Linked DNA regions of Homo sapiens: region 2 is linked to region 1. Evidence: fine-mapped expression QTL. A gene starts in region 1. The other region holds a variant in brackets. All regions are shown on one strand. Distances are between the middles of the regions. Region 1 holds the start of PAMR1 (peptidase domain containing associated with muscle regeneration 1). Region 2 overlaps PAMR1 (peptidase domain containing associated with muscle regeneration 1).

The links. PIP is the estimated chance that this variant, and not a neighbour inherited with it, causes the effect. A credible set is the group of variants that fine-mapping cannot tell apart.
Region 2: its variant is the best candidate, but not a certain one, in a credible set for the expression of PAMR1 in fibroblasts (GTEx, PIP 0.84).

The regions. Positions count from the first base shown.
Region 1 is chr11:35,517,213-35,529,441 of GRCh38, reverse strand. It overlaps PAMR1 (peptidase domain containing associated with muscle regeneration 1), which reads left to right and starts at 3,826. Exons shown (of 11, transcript NM_001001991.3): 1 at 3,826-3,929. The coding sequence starts at 3,857.
Region 2 is chr11:35,438,620-35,450,848 of GRCh38, reverse strand. PAMR1 (peptidase domain containing associated with muscle regeneration 1) reads left to right here. Exons shown (of 11, transcript NM_001001991.3): 7 at 9,156-9,368; 8 at 11,156-11,222. Among named protein-coding and RNA genes, the nearest start is that of SLC1A2, 25 kb to the right of the region's middle. The variant G/A (reference allele first, on the strand shown) is at 7,626.

The DNA of each region.
Region 1 (12,229 bases):
GAGGAGGTGAGAGGGCCCTCCAAATGTCCACTGTGCAGTTTATAGCCTAGACTCAATGATTGTATATATTCACAAAATCACTTTCCCCAAATCTGAGAAATATTTGGTCCATTTTTCAATTTTAACTTACGAAGATTAGTGATTCTAAAAAAGTTGGGAGTTTGCAAATGAGAAGGCTATGGCTCCCTCTTATTCAAAAACCTGCATGCAAAAATTTGCATATGATTTTGGAAGATTCAAAGTCCCTCAAAAAACCCCATCTCAACCAGGAGCTTCCAGATTAAGAATCCTTGATTTAGAACAATACTAAACTCTATCAATATGAAAAATGCAGTTGACCATAATGGGGACAGAGAAAGGTAAACTTGTGTAGGAAAACAGAAATTTGTGTAGGGCTGAATGTCCTCAGTAAACTACTGACTTTTCTGTGTCATAATAACAGTTCTCCTCTTTCTCTTCCAGCCCTGGGATTATTGTGCAGTTCAACAAGGTAATATCTGATTACTGCTTTGACTTCTCCAGAAAAATACATCCTCCACCTTTGCAGAGCATCTTTTTGAGAGTTTCTTTCCAGGTCCTCAGCTCTAGGAAATTTACAAACCCAAATTAGTGACAACAAACTAACAAATCAACTCTTGAAGGGGATTCCAGAAACAGAAGAAGGGCCTCTGTTTCCAGACCCCTGAACCTAGAGAAGTAAAGACCTGGTACCAGGGACTTCCTTAGCAAATAGCCAAACAGGTTTGTTGGGAAGGAAAAATAATCTTTCTTCCCTACCCATCTTAGATTCCTTGGCTGTGGCCCTGTAAATTAGAATGACAAAAAAAAGAAAAAACAGATTAACAAGAGAAAAACAAACAAAAGTTTTTTATTAACTTGTGCATGGTGCTTACATGTTGAAATACCTAGTGAGGAGTAACTCAAAGAGATGGTTAGAATTTGGGTTCATATTGCATTTTTAAAAAGAACAATAAATTTGCAGAGAAGTGGCAAGACAAACAAAAAGGACTTTGAGCTTCTAGGGGTAGCAAATTATGGGAAGATAAATAAATGGGGGTCCTAATGGGAGATAAGACTAGTTAGTAAGTTTTGGTATGTAGATTCCTCTGGGCTGATAAGGGTCTAGGGTTGTCTCCAATGATTAACTTCTGTCCGTCCTGGTAGAGAGGGGAGGTGGAGACACTATACTTTTATAAATTCAAGTCTGCTTTTAGGAAAATGGGGGGAGAACAGAGACCTATTCTTGTATCTACTTCTTCTTAACTGCTTTCAGCTCAAAATAATCCTTATGCCAAAGGGGCATATTTGGGGGTGGTATAGACTGCTATCCTTCAGGTTCATCACTTAGAGCCCCATTCTGTCAGGGGGATGCAATTCATGTAGGGATGAGGCTGCTTGGTATTGACTCAGAGAGGTGTGTGTGGTGGGGGCTGGGAGGTGGGGAGAGGGAAGATGAAAAGAAACCCCACGTGTCATGGGAAGGACCAGGTGGAGATAGTTGAATCATGGGGACAGTTACCCCCATAAAAGTTTTCATTTTGTTCTCTAGATGTTGGTGGGCCCTGGTGGTTTAGGAGTAAGGTGTGCTGAGCTCGAAGCAAAGTCTTGGGAAGAGAAGTCACCCTGGACTATTGATGAAGGCCTGGAGTAAAGATTAAGAAATGGAAGTGGAAGGGAAAAGATAAGGGGAGAAACCTGAGGAAGGTAGAATCTGTAAAGCTCAGGTGCCGTCAGCTGGAGTTGAAACAGACTCCTGAGAGGCTCTTATGCCTACAGTTATTTGGGAACTAAGTCATCTTCTTCCCACTCCCATCACCAAAGGACCAGGACTGGTTGGCCAGCAACAAGGTGAACCTCCCTTCTTCGAACCTCTGCCCTCTACCTCTTAGGTATATGCTGCCCTCTGGTATTCTGCTCCTGTTTAAGGCTACTCTTGGTGCTTATTTTAACTGATTTCATCTCGATATGGAAGTTGAGTGTAGGAACAAGACTCATACCATGAGATGTTCTTGGGGGCAGTCTCAGGTCAGATAATAGAGATAATGATTAATATTTAGTGTGCACTTAATATGTGGTAGGCTCTGTGCTATGGGCCTTACATGCGTAATCTTATTAAATTCTTCCAGTGATCTACAAAGTAGGTTTGATTATTATTTCCATTTTATAGATGAGAAGACTGAGATTCAGAGAGTTAACTTGCTTAAGGTCACACAGCCAGAAAGTGGTGAATCAACAAAATTAGAACACAGGCCTGCTGAGTTCTTGCTTCCAGTCACTTCACTGCAATAGGCCCCCAGAAGCAGGGCTGGAGTTCAGAAATTCTTTCTAGTAGAGCACCTGTGTCAGGGCTCCTGACCTTCTGATCTGTCCTGAGCTTTACAGATTCTACCTTCCTCAGGTTTCTCCCCTTATCTTTTCCCTTCCACTTCCATTTCTTAATCCTTACTCCAGGCCTTCATCAATAGTCCAGGGTGACTTCTCTTCCCGAGACTTTGCTTTGAGCTCAGCACACCCTACTTGTAAACCACCAGGGCCCGCCAACATCTAGAGAACAAAATTAAAACTTTTATGGGGGTAACTGTCCCCATGATTCAATTATCTCCACCTGGTCCCTCCCATGACACGTGGGGTTTATGGGAACCACAATTCAAGATGAGGTTTGGGTGGGGACACAGCGAAGCCATATCAAATGGTGAAATACAATTCTGCATATGTAGCATCCTAAGAAGCTCTATAGCCTAGTGGCTAAGACTATAGCCTGTGGGCCTAAGCTGCCCGGGTTCAAACCCTGGCTCTGCCCCTCACTAACTGTGTGGCCTTGGATGAGTTATTGTAATCCTCAATGGTTCCGTTTCTCTAATTGTAAAATACAGAGGCTAGGTTTATTGTGAGGAATAATTGAGTTAATACATGTAAGGTACATGACACCTGGCACGGAGGAGTTTATTTTAAAAAGTCACCTATTATGAAACATCCTTCTTCCTCATTTCGAGATGTCACTTGCTATCTTGTACCTAAACTGAGCCCTTTTGGTGGAGGCAGTGAGGGTTCTTGTGTGTTCTTCGCCATCCCTGCCTGGCGTGTGCGCAGGAGCTATTTATGTTGCTGAATTCACCATCGTGGGGATCACAGGAAGAGGAAAACTTTTTCCAGTAGCTCAGGAGCTGCTTATGTCGCTGAATTCACCATGACGGGGATCATAGGAAGAGGAAAACTTTTTCCAGTAGCCTGTAGTTGCAAAAGATAATAAGCTTTCCAACCTGTGATCACCTGGAGCAAACGGAGAGGAAAGGAGATAAACGAGGAGTGTTGCGTGCGGAGTGGAGGGAGGCTCCCTTTCTCCTCCCATCACCAACTCCTCCTTCTCCTCAGGCCAGGCTTTTAATCAGGCTCCCCGCGTGCAGTCAGAGAGGGCAAAGCCAGCTCCCGTCTCAGCCTCCCGTAGGAAGATCTCCCGGCCTCACCTGAGCGCCCCGCAGCCCTGGGTACCTCTGCTCCCGCCCAGGGTCCTATGGCCCCTCCTCCCAGCACCCAACACTGGGACCCCACCTGTACCCAGGCTGGCCTCCCTCCCCCGCAGCTTCCTTTGCAGCCGCCGTCCGCGGGTCTCCAGGCGTGGCCACACCTCCCGGGGCCCCGCAAGGGTTAAGGCAGCAGAGAGGAGAGGTTTGGGCTGACGTCGCTCTGGCTGAAGGTGGTTCCCCTCAGATGAGGATGGGAGAGCCTGGCGAGCTGAAACCCGAGCTCCCGCTCAGCTGGGGCTCGGGGAGGTCCCTGTAAAACCCGCCTGCCCCCGGCCTCCCTGGGTCCCTCCTCTCCCTCCCCAGTAGACGCTCGGGCACCAGCCGCGGCAAGGATGGAGCTGGGTTGCTGGACGCAGTTGGGGCTCACTTTTCTTCAGCTCCTTCTCATCTCGTCCTTGCCAAGAGGTACTGTGAGTAGCGTCCGGGACACCCTAGGAGGACACCCTAGGAGGGAGCATTTTCCTCCTGGGGTCTGCCTGGGAGCAGGACTGGGAGTCTCAGGAGGTGGGCTGTGTGTGTTTGGGGTGAGGGGTTGAGGGGGGGTGGTGCTTTTCCAGTGATAATTTTAGGGACTTGGCTGGTGGTGCTGGAGCTCCTGTGGCCCTCCCTGAGACTGTGACGTGGTTTTGTCATCCCAAATCGTGGGGCTGTACTGTCTCAGGAAAGCGGACCAGCTCCTATTTTATTTGCTCTTTTTATCATTTTAAAAGTACCAAATTGCCTTAGGGAATCAATTCTGAGTTACCCGCTCTGACTTGCAAAAGCGAAGTTTCTCTTGGAAAGGGCTCCCTCAGAGGTGAGCAAGAAAGAAAGAAGAGAGGGAAAGAAAGAAAGGAATAAAGAGCAGGGCTTGCTTGGTGTTCTTCTGGTGAATCTTGCTTCACGAACTCCTACAGCCATACCCCTTCGGAGTAGATCCAAGCACAGGAGATTGACTCACTCAGCATATATAGACACACTTCCTTTCTGATGAGAGTGAGAAAGAAGAAAAAGCCAAGGTTAAAAGTGCAGATTGTTTCTGGGATGCATAGGGTTTGTTTTGAAAGAGCTCTGGCTTCTTTGGTTTTCATATATCATTTTCTAAGCCACAATCCCCAGGTCAAATGGGCTTCTGGGGACAAATGAGGCTGGGACATGATACGGAGATCCAGCTAAGGGCAGAAGCGAGGACATGGCAGATCCTGCTTGCTGGCAGGCGGGGAAGTGGGAACGTCATAGGAACATCTGTCCTTCTATGGCCCAGGGGGTAAAGTGAGACCTCATGAGATGAGGGCAGGCCGAGATGTACAGAAATGACCAAACGGGGCAGCTCTGAATAGGGGCAGGTTATGTACGAGCCTTCGCTGCTTCCCTTCTGTGCTGGTTACCTGTCACCTGAACTCTATCTGAGAGCTGGGTGCTCTGCCGCTGCAAGTAGCTGGCAAGTGCCTGAGAATGAAACAGGCCAGGTCGGGTGGGGAGGATACTAAATGCAATAACCTGTGTAGAAGGGAAACTTAGCCATAGGCACATCCCTTCATGATCAACGAAAAGCTGAGATACACAAACCCCCCTGCCCTTCATTTTGGTCAATACTTTCCATCTACCTAGAGCCTGCCTGCCCAGGTAGGATCTTCCTTAATGATTTACAATAAAGATGGTGAGTGTTTCATTTGAATTTTGCCTCCATGGTGTCTGGAGCAGCCCAAAGACAATAATAAAGGAAGAAGGAGCCCTTCATAAGGGCTGACAATCCATAAACCTAAACACTTGCCTAGGGGTAAGTGGGTGACTTTGCATTAAGGCACCTCCCTACTTCATCTTCGCCTTTGCATGGTGTCGGTGGACCAGCTCCAGAGGACCTGGTTCTTCTCAGAGTGCCAGGGCTCAGTGGATTTGATTCCTCAGGGTTACATCAGCGTTCCCCTGCTTCCTGTTTTATTACATGGCAGGTGAGGCGCTTCAAAGCCATAAAAGTTTAAAAGAAAATAAAAAAACCTGAGCTGGCTCTTTTTCCTAGCCCAGAATCTGAAAAATCCATTTATTTCTGACCCGAGAACCTCTTTTACCTTTGGCTGTGAAAAAGCTTCAGAGAGGATACGCAGTTTGTTGGTAGCTAAACTGCTGCCTGAACCAGAGCGCAGCTTCATGTGTTTAGCAAGGATATTTTAGTTGTTGAATGTTTTACTCACATTTCGAGGGAAGACGGAGGAATAGCGTGGAGAAGGAAAATATTTCCTCAAGGAGTGAAGGAAGTCCACTCCCTGCTGGGATGCTGAATCTGGCCCCAGGCAAGAAAAGCTTGGAAGCGTATTTCCTCTAATTAACTTTTCTAAAAAGAGTATTTGCTGAATTGTAAACATCCACTGGGATGGTACCAGAGAGTGTTGTTTCTCACTGGCATGTGACACATGTTGGGAGGATGAGAATCCAAACATGAGGCCAAGCGATAACCCAACATAAACAGAATGAGGGGAGAAACCCAACTCCACTGACTTCACCAAATTGCGGTAGCTCTGCCAGTGTGATTCTGCCGAAGAGGAAAACCTCATTTAAAATATGGGACTCTTGGGAATGAAAACTTAATCTGGAGAACTTCACAAGTGTTGCTTCCAACAGACATTAACTTGTGGGGAATGAACATAAATGCAACCAGGGAAGATAATTTGAAGTGCAGATATTCAGTGGGCAGGAAAAGCCAGCCGAGAAAGGAAACATGGAAAGAAAGCAAGGGAGAAGGAGTGGCAAGAAAAATGAGATGTGAGATTACACTGGGATATGTTGGCAAATTCCTAGGAGAAAGCTAGGAAAATTGGGCCTTCTTGGCACGGGTGGATTTTTGCGGGGATCATGAAGAGGGTGTTCCCCTAATATACAATCTGAGAGCTCCTGGCATCCCCAACAGGAAAATAATTTAATGATGGGATCATGGAGTTTAGGAGCTGAGAGTGACTTTAGAAATTATTTTAGTATGAGTCCCTCAATTCAGAGGATGAAGAGATTAAACATCAAGCAAACATTTAGTGAACATTTATTAATGTGTCCAGTCTTTGAGCCAAAGGCTTCATATGCATTAATTCTCAGACCACCCTGAAATGGCATTGCTGTTATTATCCGTGTTTTACAGATGAGGTTCAGAGAGGTTCTATGATACACAGAGGTTTAAGGATATACAAGTATGGTTCCCCCAAAAATTGAACATAGAATTACCATTTGATTTAGCAATTCAATTTCTGGGTGTATACACAAAAGAATTGAAAGCAGGGACTTGATTAGATATGTTTACATCAATGTTCATAGCAGCATTATTCCCAATAGCCAAAAGGTGGAAACAACCCGAATGTCCATTGATAAACAAGATACAGTATACACCTACGACGGAATATTATTCAGCCTTAAAAATAAAGGATATTCTGATACGTGCTATAACACAGATGAACCTTAAGACCTTATGCTAAGTGAAAGAAGCCAGACACAAAAAGACAAATGTTCTGTGATGCCACTTATATGAGGTACTTAGAATAGTCAAATTCATGTAGACAGAAAGTAGGGTGGTAATTGCCAGGGCCCAGGAGAAGATGGAATGGGAGTTATTATTTGATGGGTACAGAGTTTCAATGTGGAATAGCAAAAAGTTCTGGAGATAGATGGTGGTGATGGTTGCACAATAGTATGAATGTACTTATGCCACTGAACCATGCACTTAAAAACGATTTGAGGCAGGCGCAGTGGCTCATGCCTATAATCCCAGCACTTTGGGAGGCCAGGGCGGGCAGATCACGAGGTCAGGAGATCGAGGCCATCCTGGCTAACACAGTGAAACCCTGTCTCTACTAAAAATACAAAAAATTAGCTGGGCGTGGTGGCAGGCGCCTGTAGTCCCAGCTACTCGGGAGGCTGAGGCAGGAGAATGGTGTGAACCTGGGAGGTGGAGCTTGCAGGGAGCCAAGATCGCGCCACTGCACTCCAGCTTGGGCGACAGAGTGAGACTCTGTCTCCAAAACAAAACAAAACAAAAAAAAACCAAACAAAAAACGATTTGAAAGGTAATTTTTTGTTATGTATATATTTTCCACAATAAATAAATAAACAACTACACTGGCAGAGTAGTGGAGCCCAGGGTGAGCTCAGGCTGTCTAGTTTCTGAACCCAAGTTCCTCCGTTACCTGGAGGACATATATTCACACATCCAGCACATGGACTGATTATGCTGATGGACATCTAACTTTGTTAGGGTTTCAGGATGCACATGAAGCAGGGGAAAGAGAGCCCTTGCTAGCTCCTGTTTTACTGGCATTGTTGCTGCTTCTTGGCTGGTTGTGGCAAAGAGGGAGACTGTGCTGATAGACCAGAAACTGGCAGCCTTTGGAGCCAAAAGGCCTGCAGAATTTATTTAGTAGGACACAAGTGCTTCAGAGTGTTTTGAACCTGAATGTCTTGAGGTAGGCTGGATCCTCTCTAGGGTCTGACACTCCACCTCTCAACCCATATGTTTAATACCTGCTAATCCTTACTAGCATTTGAAGTTTTGACCTCCATTTCTGAGAGGGATGGGACAGGAAGGGGGAATGAGAGGGAGAAGGTGGAAGGCTGGATGGTGAATGGAGGGAAACAAGGGAGTTCAGCTGCTGAGGACTAATTGGCCAACAGGATTTTTCAGAGCATCTGGTACATCAGACTTTTATCAGTGTCTAACATATTTTAATCTGTATATTTCATGGAGCATAATCTTACCTCTCTCTGTGACCTCCAACTCTTTAGTAAAATGTTTTACTTTCATGAATGCCCTTGAGCATAAGCTTTCAGTGGAAACTGAAGACAGGGCTGGGTGTTATATCTGGGTCAATAACCTGTGAACAAAGCACCTTAGACATGGGAGCCCAGAAGCAGAGGTGACCTAGAGCGCGTAAGTCCCTCAGGAATATGCAGAAGTCTTGGGGAGGGCTTTAGAATGCCATTGGCATGGACAATGGATTTGACTTAATCTTATCCACATCTGGGTTATACTGGCTAGACAGAAATGGCCAACATAATGGTGCCTGGGACCTAATGACAGGTCTTAGATCTGAAAATTATTTCCATCTGCCCCACTGGGGTGGCCAATCCTGATGCAAAAGAAAACTTCTCTACCTGCCTCCCCTGAGACCAGCTCTAGAAGCTGCAGTTGATTTGGGGTGTAAGCAAATGGGGAAAAGTGCCATTTCCATGATAAATGAGGGAATATTGTGCCCCATTCCCCCCTCATTGGGGAGGAGCTGTCATCCTCACTTTGTGGATATTTGAAAGTCACAAGAGCCCAGCCTCCCTCCTCTTTTATTTTAAAGGGGAGGGAAATGCAATGTTTACATTTTCCAGTTCCTAAATTCCAGGGCAGAGAACCCAGAGGCCAGCTGGAAAACTGAAAGCACCAGATCAGTGGCAGAAACTCTATTAGATTCCAAGCCTGGTCTATGTTTAAGGAATTCTGTTTGTCAGTCATCTCAACACCTGGGCGAGAGCTTTAGATTAAAATGAAGAGAAAGAAGTAAAAAATTCAGGACACACCAGATCTCATACCTGTAAACAGAACTGCTCAAGGAAGGCAGAGAATTGGAGTTGGCTGGAGATATTAATCTCTGAATCAGTGTGACTGCTACCTCCTACTCAACTCTACCCCTTTTACTTGGTTGCAGTTGTCTATGAGACAGACTCAGGGCCCACGTGGGTTGAGAGTGGAGTAAGTAGGGGTTGCACATCAAGGCATCTTTACCCTTGATGATACAATCATCAATGGTGGAAACACCTTTGAAGAGGCTTCCATTCTAGCATACCTAAGGAAATGAATCCCAAGTTTGGCTATCCAAATAATTTATTGAGTTTGTGGTAAACACTAGGCACTCCCGTATATGCTTTATATATATTTACTTAATCCTCACCACAAACCTAGGAGGTAAGTACTATTGTTGTTTGCCCCCACTTCATACACAAAAGAGCTTAGGCAAAGGGTTTCAGTACCTGCCCAGGTCATATAGCTGGATATCCATGTTTTTGAATCCAGTCTGACTCCATAAGGCATGCCCTGAAATGTGACACACCACCACCACAGTAAGCAGTAGGTCCAACGGTGGCAGATCTGCTGGCTGTATTTTGGCGAAATGATAAAAAATCATGGTGTTAGTAAGGGTGTCTGATTATCCCTGGAACATCCCAAGTGCCCAGATTGGCCTGTGTCAAGTCATGTTCTCACCTCTGTGGAGGTGGAGTGGATGCAGGAAAAAGACAGAGGCATCAGCAGCCCCAGTAGCACCACATGGAACCCAAGAGGAGCCATTCCCTAGAGGAAACAGGGGTGCCAGGCAGACCAAAAGTCCAACCAGTTTCTGGGACAGCTGTCCATGGTGTCATGTACCTTGCTCCCAGTAGACATGAGAGGTGAGAATTTCTTTGTCCCATGGTAAATTTTTATCATCCAAATCACATGTCTGTTTGCAGAGGAACAGAATTGCTAATGAGACCATTTATTCCAGTGTGGCCCTGACATTGTGTATGTCTGCTCCTTTATGGATGTGTTCTGTGTAAACTCTTAAGCCATGGGATGGGAGGAGCAGACCTGGAGTGAATAAGCGGGAGCATTTTTCCCCCTTCTTTTTTGGCAAAACATAGTTGATGAATATTGCAGGGGATGGAGACTCAATCCCTTTCCTCTAATCCTAAGATGGGTTTTAACCAATTCATCTCAACCTTGAATGAGGATCTACTGTCTATCAGACACCAGTGTCCTGGATCTTATGTCAGCTATTTAAAGAAGTGGCCCCCTTGGCTGAGCAGCTATGAAGACTACTATTTCTCTCACTCTTCTCTCTCTGGTGTTGGATAAATGCCTTTATTTCTGCAGTCTGGGCATCTTTATCATTGCCCTCTCTGAGGTTCTGGCTGTCTCAGAGGGTTGAGTTAGTGGTTTGGCAGCAAGCATCTCTGTAAGTAGAAGTCTGGTCAGTTGACTTGATGTTTGGAAAACCAGGCTGTTGCTGCCAGAACAGAGTGAGGAACACATTTAGCTAACTTTAGCTCGGGTGAGACACAATTGTCCTCACACACTGACACAACAACTGTCCTCATGCACTGAATTGATGGTGGGTTAAAAAAATTCCAGCTAGCTTAATGAAAAACCACTGGATGGAGAGGGGATGTTGGGTTGTTTTGCTTGAAATCAAATGAATTGTTGGATGACTCCAAGAAACTAAAGCATCAATGTTTTTCAAATCCAGTTGCACTTCTATTTACTTTATAATTCCACTGGATGGTATAAGGGAAAAAAAGACAAAAAGAGGCTCTGTGGTCAAACAACTTGAAGTAATCAGTTAATTCTCTGATCACCTCAAGTTGTTTGACCACAGAGCCTCTTTTTGTCTTTTCCTTTATACCATCCAGTGGAATTAGTGCTCCGTGGAATACAGCTTGGAAAACTCTGATCTCTCACCCGTAAGGCATAAGACGTGGAAGAATATCTCACCATTAAAGAGGAAAGGGTAAGAAGGGAATTTGAAAGTCTAAGAAACATGAGCCTCCCTTTAGACTTTTGCATCCACCATGGGATCCCTCCTTAGAAGTTAACGAGAATGATGGAGAACACCTGAAATGTCCTAAGACAAGTTGCCTGGGCTTAGCTTCTACCTGGTATCATCTACTCCTATAATTTTCAACCTACCTTTGCTTACTTGGATACAAGCAGAAGTGAGGACATGGCTGGTGGTAAGGAATCCTCATTACAACACTTTTTGGTCTGGCTTTTTGCCTCCCAGGGGGTTAACTGCCTGCTTCTCAATGGTGTTCAGCCTCCCTTTTGGGCAAGCCTGGTCCTGTGGCCAATGCACTGGTAGAACAGAATGGGTAAGTATCTCAAGCCCTCGTGGAAATGAGATACAAATTGCAGTCAACAAAAATATTCACTAATGGACCCAATGGATTCCTCTTTCTGTACAATAGAGACTCTGAAAAGTCACAGCAAGAGAAGATTCTAACATCGGTCTTTGTCACAAATAGCCTTTACACTTGGAATCACACATGCTCCCATGTCCATATTCATGTATTTATTTAGTAATCCTTATCAAGCCCCTATCGGGTGCCAGGCATGGTTATAGGTGTTGGCAATATCAAGATGAACAGGACAAAGTCCTTTTTCTGAAGGCACTTGCAATCTACTGAGAGAACTGATGGTTCAGCTTGGCATTTCCCAAAATGGGTTTCAGGAAATGCTAATCCTGGGAGATATTCAGCAAAAGTAAACAGAATCCAGGATGTTATGATGAAATAAGTCTGGGGGATTTGGAGATTATAGACTCTGCAGAGTCCTGCAGTAAAGAAAGCTATAATTCATTTTTTATAATGAAATATTTCACAAAGTTGTTTGACCACAGAGCCTCTTTTTGTCTTTTTACCTTATACCATCCAGTGGAATTAGTGCTTCATGGAATACAGTTTGGAAAACTCTGACCTCTTGCCCATAAGGCATAAAACATGGAAGAATATCTCACCATTACAGAGGAAAGGGTAGGAAGGGACTTTGAAAGTCTAAGAATCATGGGCTTCTCTTCAGACTTTTGCTGAGGTATGAGTAGGAAGTCTGATGTCCTCATCACTTAACGTTTGCTGAGATGTTGAAAGGGCCATGAGATGATGGCACATCCATGTTCCTATGAGAAAGGTTCTTGCCAGCACTAATCAATTTGGGCTATGGAGAAAACTCA
Region 2 (12,229 bases), 79 kb after region 1:
AGGGCTCTCTTCTAAGCAAAGACACTTTTCAACTCCAGTTGATTATTGCTATATGGGAATACAGGCCCAGGATTTCAGATCTGAATTATGTTAGAAACGAATAATATAGATTTTTAAATGAAATCTCCCAATTTTTATGTCTGCAACGAATTCCATTTTATAAAACTTTCAAGCATAACATATTATGTTTTTGAGACAATTTCAGTCTGTGGGCCCCAGTGGGTGCTTACTAAGCTCAATTTTCAGAATGAATGAATCTGTGCTATTAGAAGCTACCACCATCAGTGAAGCAACATGGACTGCTTTATCTGCCTTTTCCTCCCACATCATGGAGGCATTTCTGAAAATGTAAGCACTGGAGTTTTGTGAGTCCACTTGAAGCATTAAGAAACCCATTACCCTTTTTATACCATCACAGTATTTTTAAACAGCTTACTCAGTGGGGTCCCTTTTTTATACTTATTAATAAAATGGGGGCTTTGGATTCATTTGCCAGAAAAAAATGCTGATATTACATAGTCCAAAGGCATACAGAGTGTCATTGAGATTAACTTACGCATAGTCTATGGACGGTCTTAGAGTGGACAAACCGGTGATTTGGCTAATTGTTGCAGCCTTGCCAAGTTGCACATAGGAAAGTTATTTATTTTTAATTCTCAAATATTTTAGAGGTGTTATCTGAATAGAGATTTTTTTTTTTTTTTTTTTTTTTTTTTTTTGCCTGGAGGCAGCCAAGTAAGTTTCTTGGAAGGCAATTGGGACAGTTACAGGAAAGAAAGCTTATCAAATGCATAATTGTGGGGGCCAAGATGGCTGATTAGAAGCAGCTCTAGCCTGTGGCTCCCACTGAGAAAAATGAAAATGGCAAGTGAATCCTGCACTTTCAGCTGAGGTATCTAGGTTCTCTCATTGAGACTGACTAGGTGGTTGTCATGACCCATGGAAAGCAAGGAAAAGCAGAGTGGAGTGATGGCCCAGCCGGGAGCTGCATGGAGTAAGGCAAACTCCCACCCCAGCCAAAGGAGGCAGTTAGTGATGTGCTACCCTGCCAGGGAAACCACAATTTTGCCATGGATCTGTGCAACCCACAGATGAGGAGATCCCCTTGTGAGCCCATGCCACCAGGGCCTTTGGTCTCAAGCACAGAGCTGTGCAGTCTCTCGGAGGCTGCTTGGGTTGTGGCCAGTGGCAGCAGGCTGGAGACTGCCTAAGATGACCAAGTTCCCAGGGGGAGGGGAGGCAGCCATCACTGCGGTTTCAGTTGGCCATTTTCCCCTGCTGGTCCAGAAAGATCGGACGGTTTGGACAGAGAAGAATTCCTCACAGTGCAGCACAGTAGCTGTGGCAGATTGTGGCCAGACTGCTTCTTTAGGTGGGACCTGGATCCATCCCTCCTCACTGGGTGGCACCTCCCTTCAGGAATTCCGGCAACTCCAGCCAGGGGTTTACGGACAGAACCCCAGTCTTCCTGGGACAGAGCCTCTGTGGGGAGGCGGTCATGATCTCCTGTTCAACACACTTAGTTTTTCCTGCTTGCTGGCTCTGAGGTGGCCAGTGGGACAGATCCTCTGTGGGGAGGCAGTCATGATCTCCTGTTCAACACACTTAGTCTTTCCTGCTTGCTGGCTCTGAGGTGGCTGGTAGTCCAGACGAGTGGGATTTCCCCCAGTGCAGTGCACCTGCTCTGCCAAGGGGCAGCCAGATTGCTTCATTAAGCAGGTCCCTGATCGTGCCTCCTGACTGGGTGGAACCTCCCAACAAGGGTGGCCAGACACCTCATACAGGAGAGTTCCAGCTGGCATCAGTTTGGTGCCCCTGTGGGATGGAGCTCCTGGAGGAAGGAGCAGGCAGCCATCTTTGCTTTGCTGCAGCCTCCACTGGTGATATCTCCAGGTGTGGGAGGGACCCAGGTGAATAGAGTCTGGAGTGGACCTCCAGCAAACGGCAGCAGCCCTGCAGAAGAGGGGCCTGGCTGTTAAAAGAAAAACAGAAAGCAACAACAACATCAACAAAAAAGACCCCACAAAAATCTCATCCAAAGGTCAGCAGCCTCAAAGATTGAAGGTAGATAAACCCATGAAGATGAGAAAAAATCAACATAAAAGTGCTGAAAATTTAAAAAGCCAGAGCGTCTCTTCTCTTCCAAATGATTGCAACACCTCTCCAGCAATGGCACAGAACTGGGCTGAGGCTGAGATGGATTAATTGACAGAAGTAGGCTTCAAAAGGTAAGTAATAATGAACTTTGATGAGCTAAAGGAGTAAGTTCTAACCCAATGCAAAGAAGCTAAGAATCATGATAAAACACTACAGGAGCTGTTAACCAGAATAATCAGTCTAGAGAGGAACATAAATGACCTGATGGAGCTGAAAAACACAGCATAAGAACTTCACAATGCAACCACAAGTATCAATAGCTGAATAGACAAAATGGAGGAGAGAATCTCAGAACATTAAAACTATCCTGCTGAAATAAGACAGGCAGACAAGATTAGAGAAAAAAAAAATGAAAAGGAATGAACCAAACCTCTGAGAACTATGGGATTATGTAAAAAGACCAAACCTGATTGGGGTACCTGAAAGAGACAGGGAGAATGGAGCCATGCTAGAAAACATACTTCAGGATGTCATCTAGGAGAACTTCCCCAACCTAGAAAGACAAGCTAACATTCAAATTCAGGAAATCCAGAGAACCCCAGCAAGATATTCCATAAGAATGTCAACTCCAAGACACATAATCCTCAGATTTTCCAAGGTTGAAATGAAGGAAAAAATGTTAAGGGCAGCCAGAGAGAAAGGCAAGGTCACCTACAAAGGGAATGCCATCAAACTAACAGTCGATATCTCAGGAGAAACCTACAAGCCAGAAGAGATTAGGGGCCAATATTCAACATTCTTAAAGAAAAGAATTTCCAACCCAGAATTTCATATCCAGGCAAACTAAGCTTCATAAGTGAAGGAGAAATAAAATCCCTTTCAGACAAGCAAATGCTGAGGGAATTTGTCACCACAAGGCCTGCCTTGCAAGAGCTCCTGAAGGAAGCACTGAATAGTGAAAGGAAAAACTGTCACCAGCCACTACAAAAACACACTGAAGTAGACAGACCAAGGCACTATGAAACAACTACATTAACAAGTCTGCAAAATAACCAGCGAGCATCACGATGACAGGATCAAATTTACACATAACGATATTAACCTTAAATGTAAATAGGCTAAATGCCCCAATTAAAATACACAGAATGGCAAGCTGGATAAAGAGTGAAGACCCATTGGTGTGCTGTGTTCAAGAGACCCATCTCACATGCAAAGACCCAGAAAGGCTCAAAATAAAAGGATGGAGGAAGGCCAGGCGCAATGGCTCACGCCTGTAACCCCAGGACTTTGGGAGGCCGAGGCGGACAGATCATGAGGTCAGGAGATCGAGCCATCCTGGCTAACATGGCGAAACCCTGTCTCCACTAAAAAATAGAAAAAAATTAGCCGGGCGTGGTAGCAGGTGGCTGTAGTCCCAGCTACTCGGGAGGCTGAGACAGGAGAATGGCATGAACCTGGGAGGCAGAGCTTGCAGTGAGCCGAGATCGCACCACTGCACTGCAGCCTGGGTAACAGAGCGAGACTCCATCTCAAAAAAAAAAAAAAAAAAGGGATGGAGGAAAAATTACCAAGCAAATAGGAAAGCAGAAAAAAGCAGGGGCTGCAATGCTAGTTTCTGACAAAACAGACTTTAAACCAACAATATCAAAAAAGATAAAGAAGGGCATTATATAATCATAAAGGGTTCAATTAAGCAAGAAGAGCTTACTATCCTAAACATATATGCACCCAATACAGGAACACTCAGATTCATAAAACAGGTTCTTAGAGACCTAAAAAGAGACTTACACTCCCATACAAAAACAGTGGGAGACTTTAACACCCCATTGTCAATATTAGATCATCAAGACAGAAAATTAACAAAGATATTCAGGACTTGAACTCAGCTCTGGACCAAGTGGACCTGATAGATATCTGCAGAACTCTCCACCCAAAAACAAAAGAATAAACATTCTTCTTGGTGCCACATAGCACTTACTCTGAAATTGATCATATAATTGGAAGTAAAACACTTCTCAGCAAATGCAAAAGGACTGAAATAATAACAAACTGTCTCCCAGACCACAGCACAATTAAATTAGAATGCAAGATTAAGAAACTCACTCAACCACACAATTATATGGAAATTGAACAACCTGCTCCTGAACGACTCCTGGGTAAATAATGAAATTAAGGCAGAAATCAAGAAGTTCTTTGAAACCAATGAGAACAAACAGACAACATACCGGAATCACTGGGATGCAGCTAAAGCAATGTTATGAGGAAAATTTATAGCACTAAATGCCCACATCAAAAATCTACACAGATCTCAAATTGATATCCTAGCATCACAACTAAAATAACTAGAGAACTAAGAACAAACAAACTCCAAAGCTAGCAGAAGACAAGAAATAACCAAGATCACAGCAGAACTGAAGGAGATAGAGACACAAAAAATCTTTCCAAAAATCAACTAATCCAGGAGCTGGTTTTTTGAATAAAAATTAATAAAATACATAGCTAGCTAGATTAATAAAGAAGAAAAGAGAGACTAATTAAAGAATCAAATAGACACAATATAAAATAATAAAGGGGATATCACCACTAACCCCAAAAATGCAAACAATTATCAGAGAATGCTATAAACACCTCTATGCAAATAAACTAGAAAATCTAGGATAAATGGATAAATTCCTGGACACATACACCCTCCCAGGACTGAACCAGGAAGAATTTGAATCCCTGAATAGACCAATAACTAGTTCTGAAATCGAGGTAGTAATTAATAGCCTACCAATCAAAAGAAGCCCAGGACCAGATGGATTTATGGCTGAATTTTACCAGAAGTACAGAGAGGATCTGGTACCATTTCTTCTGAAACTATTCAAAACAATGGAAAAGGAGGGACTTCTCTCTAACTTATTTTATGAGGCCAGCATCATCCTGATAACAAAACCTGTCAGAGATGCAACAAAAAAACAAAACTTCAGGCCAATATCCCTGATAAACATCAATGCAAAAACCCTCAATAAAATACTGGCAAACCAAATCCAGCAGCACATCAAAAAGCTTATCCACCACGATCAAGTTGGCTTTATCCTCAGGATGCAAGGCTGGTTCAACATCTGCAAATCAATAAACATAATTCATCACATAAACAGAACTAAAGATGAAAAAACATGATTAAATAGACACAGAAAAGCCTTTGATAAAATTCAACATCCCTTCATGTTAAAAACTCTCAATAAACTAGGTAAAGCAGGAACATACCTCAAAATAAAAGCCATTTATGACAAACCCACAGCCAATATCATACTGAATGGACAAAAGCTGGAAGCATTCCCATCGAAAACTGGCACAAGAAAAGGATGCCCTCTCTCATCACTCCTATTCAACACAGTACTGGAAGTTCGGGCCAGGGCAATCAGGCAAGAGAAAGAAATAAAGTGTATTCAGACAGGAAGAGAGGAAGTCAAATTTTCTTTGTTTGTGAATGGCATGATCCTATATCTAGAAAACCCCATCGTCTCAGACCAAAAGCTTCTTAAGCTGATAAGCAACTTCAGCAAAGTCTCAGGACACAAAATCAATATACAAAAATCATAAGCATTCCTATACATCAACAACAGACAGGCAGAGAGTCAAATCATGAATGAACTCCCATTCACAATTGCCACAAAGAGAATAAAATGCCTAGGAATACAGCTAACAAGGGAAGTGAAAGATCTCTTCAAGGAGAACTACAAACCACTGCTCAAGGAAATCAGAGAGGACACAAACAAATGGAAAAACATTCCACGCTCATGGATAGGAAAAATCAATATTGTGAAAATGGCCATACTGCCCAAAGTAATTTATAGATTCAATGATATTCCCATCAAACTAGCATTGACATTCTTCACAGAATTAGAAAAAACTATTTTAAAATTCACAAGGAAACACAAAACAGCCCATATAGTCAAGACAATCCTAAGCAAAAAGAATGAAGCTGAAGGCATCACACTAACCAACTTCAAACTATACAAGGCTACAGTAACCAAAACAGCATGGTACTGGTATAAAAACAGACACATAGACCAATGGAACAGAACAGAGACCTCAGAAATAAGACCACACATCTACAACCATCTGATCTTCGACAAACCTGACAAAAACAAGCAATGAGGAAAGGATACCCTGTTTAATACATGGTACTGGGAGAACTGGCTAGGCATATGCAGAAAATTGAACCTGGACCCATTCCTTACACTTTATACAAAAATTAACTCAAGATGGAAAAATGATTGAAATGTAAAATCCAAAACTATAAAAAGCCTAGAAGAAAATCTAGGCAATACCATACAACATAGGCACAGGCAAAGATTTCATGACAAAAACGTCAAAAGCAATTGAAACAAAAACAAAAATTGACGAACTGGATCTAATTAAACTACAGAGCTTCTGCACAGCAAAATAAACTATCATCAGAGTGAACATACAACCTACAGAATGGGAGAAAAGTTTTGGAACCTATCCAACTGACAAAGGTCTAATATCCAGAGTCTACAAGGAAATTAAACAACTTTACAAGAAAAAAAAATCCCATTAAAAAGGGGGCCAAGGACATGAACAGACACTTCTCAAAGGTACTGGTTTTGTACCAGTACCATGCTGTTTTGGTTACTATAACCTCATAGTATAATTTGAAGTCAGTTAGCATGATGCCTCCAGCTTTGTTCTTTTTGCTTAGGATTGTCTTGGCTATATGGGGTCTTTTTGCTTCCTTATGAATTTTAAAGACATTTATGCAGCCAACAAACATTTGAAAAAAGCTCAACATCACTGATCATTAGAGAAATGTAAATAACCACAACGAGATACTATCTCATGCCAGTCGCAATGGCGAGTATTTAAAAGTCAAGAAACAACAGATGCTGCCAAGGCTGTGGAGAAATAGGAACACTTTTACACTGCTGGTGGAATGTAAATTATTTCAAGGTGATTGAACTAATTTGGTGATTCCTCAAAGATCTAGCACCAGAAATACCATTTGACCCAGCAATCCCATTACTGGGTATATACCCAAAGGAATATAAATCTATTATAAAGATACATGCACATGTATGTTCATTGCATCACTGGTCACAATAGCAAAGACATGGAATTAACCCAAATGACCATCAATGATAGACTGGATAAAGAAAATGTGGTACATGATACACCATGGAATACTATGCAGCCATAAAAAGGAACAAAATCATATCCATTGCAGGGACATGGATGAAGCTAGAAGCCATTATCCTCAGCAGATTAATGCAGGAACAGAAAACGAAACACTGGATGTTCTCACTCATAAGTGGGAGCTGAATGATGAGAACACATGGACACAGGGAGGGGAATAACACACACTGGGGCCTATCAGGGGGTTGTGAGGGGAGGGAGAGCATCAGGATAAACAGCTAATGCATGTGGGGCTTAATACCTAGGTGATGGATTGACAGGTGCAGCAAACCACCATGGCACACGTTTACCTATGTAAGAAACCTGAACATCCTGCACCTGTATCCGGA[G/A]CTTAATAAAATAAAAATAAAAAGAAGGAAGGAAAAAAAAAAAGCACAGTTGCATTGCACAGAGACTGTTTTATAGGGATGAGCCTGTCTGTGTCTTAGAATAAATGATTTTAAGGAAACCAGGGAGTCTACTAGAAGAGGAGACAGAAAAGGTGGCAAGGGTTGAGAACTACTGGATATTATAATCAATGCCTGTGTGACAGGATCAATTGTACCCCAAAGCTCAGCATAATGCAATATACTCAGGTAATAATTCTGCACATGTACACCCTGAATCTAAAATAAAAGTTGAAATTATTTATATTAAAAAAAAGAAACTAAGGTCAGTTATGGTGGCTTACACCTGTGATTCCAGCACTTTGGGAGGCCAAGGTGGGAGGACAGCTTGAGCTTAGGAGTTCAAGACCAACCTGGGCAACATGGTGAAACCCCATCTCTACTAAAAATACAAAAATTAGCTGGTGTGTGCCTGTGGTCCCAGCTACTCAGTAGCCTAAGGTGGGAGGATCACTTGAGCCCAGGGGATGGAGTTTGCAGTGAGCCAAGATTGCGCCACTGTACTCCAGCCTGGGTGACGGAGTGAGACCATGTCTCAAAATAAATAAATAAATAAAAAAAGAAAAAGAAAAAAAAAGAAAAAAGAAAGTAGGGAGGCTGATAGGTTGATAGAGTGATTGGTACCCAAATCAAGTAGTAGAAGTTTGAATTCTATGGGAGCTCGGCTTCCTTAGGCAAGTCATATTCAGTAGTGTCATAATCTATTTGAGAGAAATATGTTACCTATCTGATAGAATATTTCCAGAATATATCTAAAAATCCTGTTTAGTGCTCAGAATAGCTGCTGATGCCATTTCTACTTTAATAGCCATTCAACAGGACTCAAAGAATAGAAATACCTCTGTAATGAATATCAAATACTTAGATGGAAAGTTATATTTGGAGATCAAGGGAAATTTATTGTATCTCTACAATTATATTGTTCTGTAGTATTTTTAACTATAACTTTCAATACACTTATTTTCCTAGAGATTAAATATAAAATCTAAATTCACTTTATGTATGTACTCTTATTTCTAAGCAGCTCTACTTTCTGGGTACAATACAAATAGGAAATGGAATAGTTTTTAATTGCCCAAGCTTTAAAGAATGAAGGAGATAATACAACAACACTGAAAAACAATAATCCTTGTATACCGATAATAAAATTTAGGTGAGATATTTATTTTACTCAGGGCTGCCTAGTTCCAACAGTTTGAGAAAGAAATGGACAAGATGATATAAGAGCCAGATTTGGCATCAAATTTATTTATATATAGAATGAGATTTTTCAATTTAAGAATAAATTATGAAAACAGGGGAAATACATGTCTAGTACATGAATTTTCTATTATGAGATTTATTTTAGTAATTCTTTTGAGCACCAGATCCTATATCATTGTATTTTTAGTTCAATGAAACATGAAAGATTCTATTCTAAAATGGAATAACTCAGACTTTTAACAATTCTCCTTTTCTTTTACTTTCTTTTAGTCCTTGAAGAAAGAAACTGCTCAGACCCTGGGGGCCCAGTCAATGGGTACCAGAAAATAACAGGGGGCCCTGGGCTTATCAACGGACGCCATGCTAAAATTGGCACCGTGGTGTCTTTCTTTTGTAACAACTCCTATGTTCTTAGTGGCAATGAGAAAAGAACTTGCCAGCAGAATGGAGAGTGGTCAGGGAAACAGCCCATCTGCATAAAAGGTAACTTACAATTGTTTCTGAAGTCTACGGACATTGATGAAGTTGCTAGACTTTTTGGTAGCTCCTTTGCATGTTTTTAAGCCCCTGGAAAAATGCCTTTCTCTTTTAAGTCCTTTCTGAAACCATATATCTCTGAGGTTGGAAACCATCCTAAAAATATTTGCTTCTTTTTTTTTTTGACCTCAAGAGGACCTGCTTTCCCTAATCACAACACCTTGAGGTGATCAAGAAGAGGAATGTAGTTATCAGAGCAGTTTAGGAAAGATGACAGGGCTGAGTTTAATATATGCAAATCCAAGTATAGAATTGAGGCAATGTATAAGCATGTACATAGCTCCACTTATCTACTTTCTATGCAATATTAAGTTGATGTGAGAAATAAAAGAACAAAATAGACACATCATCCCTGCCAGCCTATGGAGGGGGAGGATTGAAGATGTTAAGATGTTTAAAAACAAAGACAGAGAGTAAACCCTTGTACATTCAAGGGATAGTTATAGGAAGAGATGAGTGGTGTAAGTTCAGCAAAAGGAGAGATCAGCATTCCTGAAATAGGGACAATTGCATGAATCCAGTAGGACTGGAGCCAGTCTGGAAAGCTGGAGAGGATTTGTAGATGTGAAGAGGAGTCGGGATGGTATTCCAAATGGAAGACAGCAGAAAAGAAAAGAGGTGTAGGCAGAAGTGAAGTCATCATGGTAAACTCAAAGTGAGGCAATCTGGGAATCAAGGGGTAAACTTAAATATGTAGGTTGGACAGAAAAGTGGAATATTGTATAGAGAAGTTTGAACCTTCCCCATTGGCAGTGGGGATGCATAGTTTCTCACTGAATTGATTCACTAGTTGCTTCAGGTTAACATCCTCTCTATTTGGGGGCAGGCCACAATGATCTGGCTGTTTACTGGGAAGAAAACATGTCCTTGTCCTAGATTATCCGGATAATTGTCTTAATCCTCCACTTTGCCTTCTGGGTGTTTGTCAACAACCTGAATCATGGGAAAAGGAATGAAAGGGAATGGTTTGTGAAAGGAATAAATCACTTTAGACTTTAGCCAGAAGCGACCTTCATCCCCACCAGCACAAATTCTGATTTTTATTTCATTAAGTATGGGAACGGTGTCACATATGTCCTTGGAGATTTTTGTCCAGTCTTCTCTTACAAATTAATACAACCAAAGTTCTCTAAGTTGCTAATTAGATGAATGTTGGCTGCCTGATTGGGAAAGTGAGATGGGAAGGATTCCTTTTCATTCTTGAAGAAAGAGAGACTTCAACAAAATTAAACTGGGCTTTGAATTGCCCTCAAGTGATTGTTAGGGGCCTTAACAGCAGAGAAAGAACATGGAGGAATCAGTTTTCCAAGACTTATCTATGGTTGACACTGCTGTCTGGTGTCAAAAGAGAACCTTCTAATTCCCCATGTGGGCTATGTTTTAGAACCTTCACTTTGACTTTTATTCCATTTTGATCAAGTTTGCTAATTACATTCACATGAACAGATGATCCTAATCTATGATGCCATTGTCCCAAATCACTCAGGTGGGGCAGCCTTTCAGAGGCATCTGCTCTTCTTGGATTCTTCAGAGGGTGCTGTCAATCAAGATGAAATGCACCAAGCTCTTTTGTAAAGTGAGATGTTCAAGCTTGGCTGACATGTCTTGCCTCTGAGAGCCTGGGGAATGGGCACCTGGTGTCCAGAAGTGGGGGTCAGGTATGAATCTGAACTGAATGATATGAACAGTGAATATGGAAAAGGATCATGCAGCATTGTCTTTTTTATTTCTAGCCTGCCGAGAACCAAAGATTTCAGACCTGGTGAGAAGGAGAGTTCTTCCGATGCAGGTTCAGTCAAGGTGAGGTCAAAACACCTGCACTCTGCCCTGAAGGCTAATGAGTATTTCCCCTTCCATTCCCCTTCCCCACTTGTGTTTGGCCAAAGATAGTCAGTTTGAGGTTTCTTAGGGACATTTAGTGCTAACTGGTCATGAAATAATAGGGCTTGTTAGATGGAGGCTTATTAGCCAGCTGCCTTTAGCCAAGAGGTAGCAACTGTTGGAAGATGTACAAATTTCACTGGATCGTGGGAAAGTAGATGACCGGTGGAAAGCAAGACTTTCAGATGATCTTTGAGAAAATGGACTTGAATCCTTGAGTCTTCCTGAAATTACTATGTACTTGTTATGGTAGCTTCTAGGAAGATGACATTTCTGTTAAACACAGTCAGCTATAATTTAGGAAGATATGCTTGGAGGTAACCAGTGAGATGAGGCAGGCTGGGGGAGCCCAAGAACTAGAGACAAATGACCAGCCATGCAGAAGGATGTGAGCCCCTCTGGTATGCTCAACCTTCCTCCTGGGAAGACAAAGGTGGGGTCCACCTGGTGGGGAGGGAGTAGCCCCTTTCTACTCATTTCTTCTACATTCTCTTCCTCACTCTCTCCACTCAGCTACACGGGCCTCCTTGATTTTCCTCTATCACTCCAAGCACAGTTCTGCTTTGGAAACTACACTGTGGCTCCTTCTGTCTGGAGCCTGCTTCCACAAGATCTCAGGCTTATTGCCTCACTTCCTTCAGTTCTCTGCTCAGTTTTTGCCTAACAGAGAGAGATCTTCCCTAAATATCCTTTTAAAGATAGCAATCCTATCTTCACCCTGACTGTCTAGTGGACCCCTTTACCCAGAATTCTCTAGCCTGTAGTCTGTTTCTGTTTTTATCTTAGCATCTCTCTCCACCTGTTGTCTTACATATTTTTAAGGGTTTATTTGTTCAATTTCTGTCAACCTCACCCTCCCCAAAATGTGAAAGTTACACGTGCAGGAACATTATCTGTTTTGTTCATGCTGAAAGTTCTAGTACCTA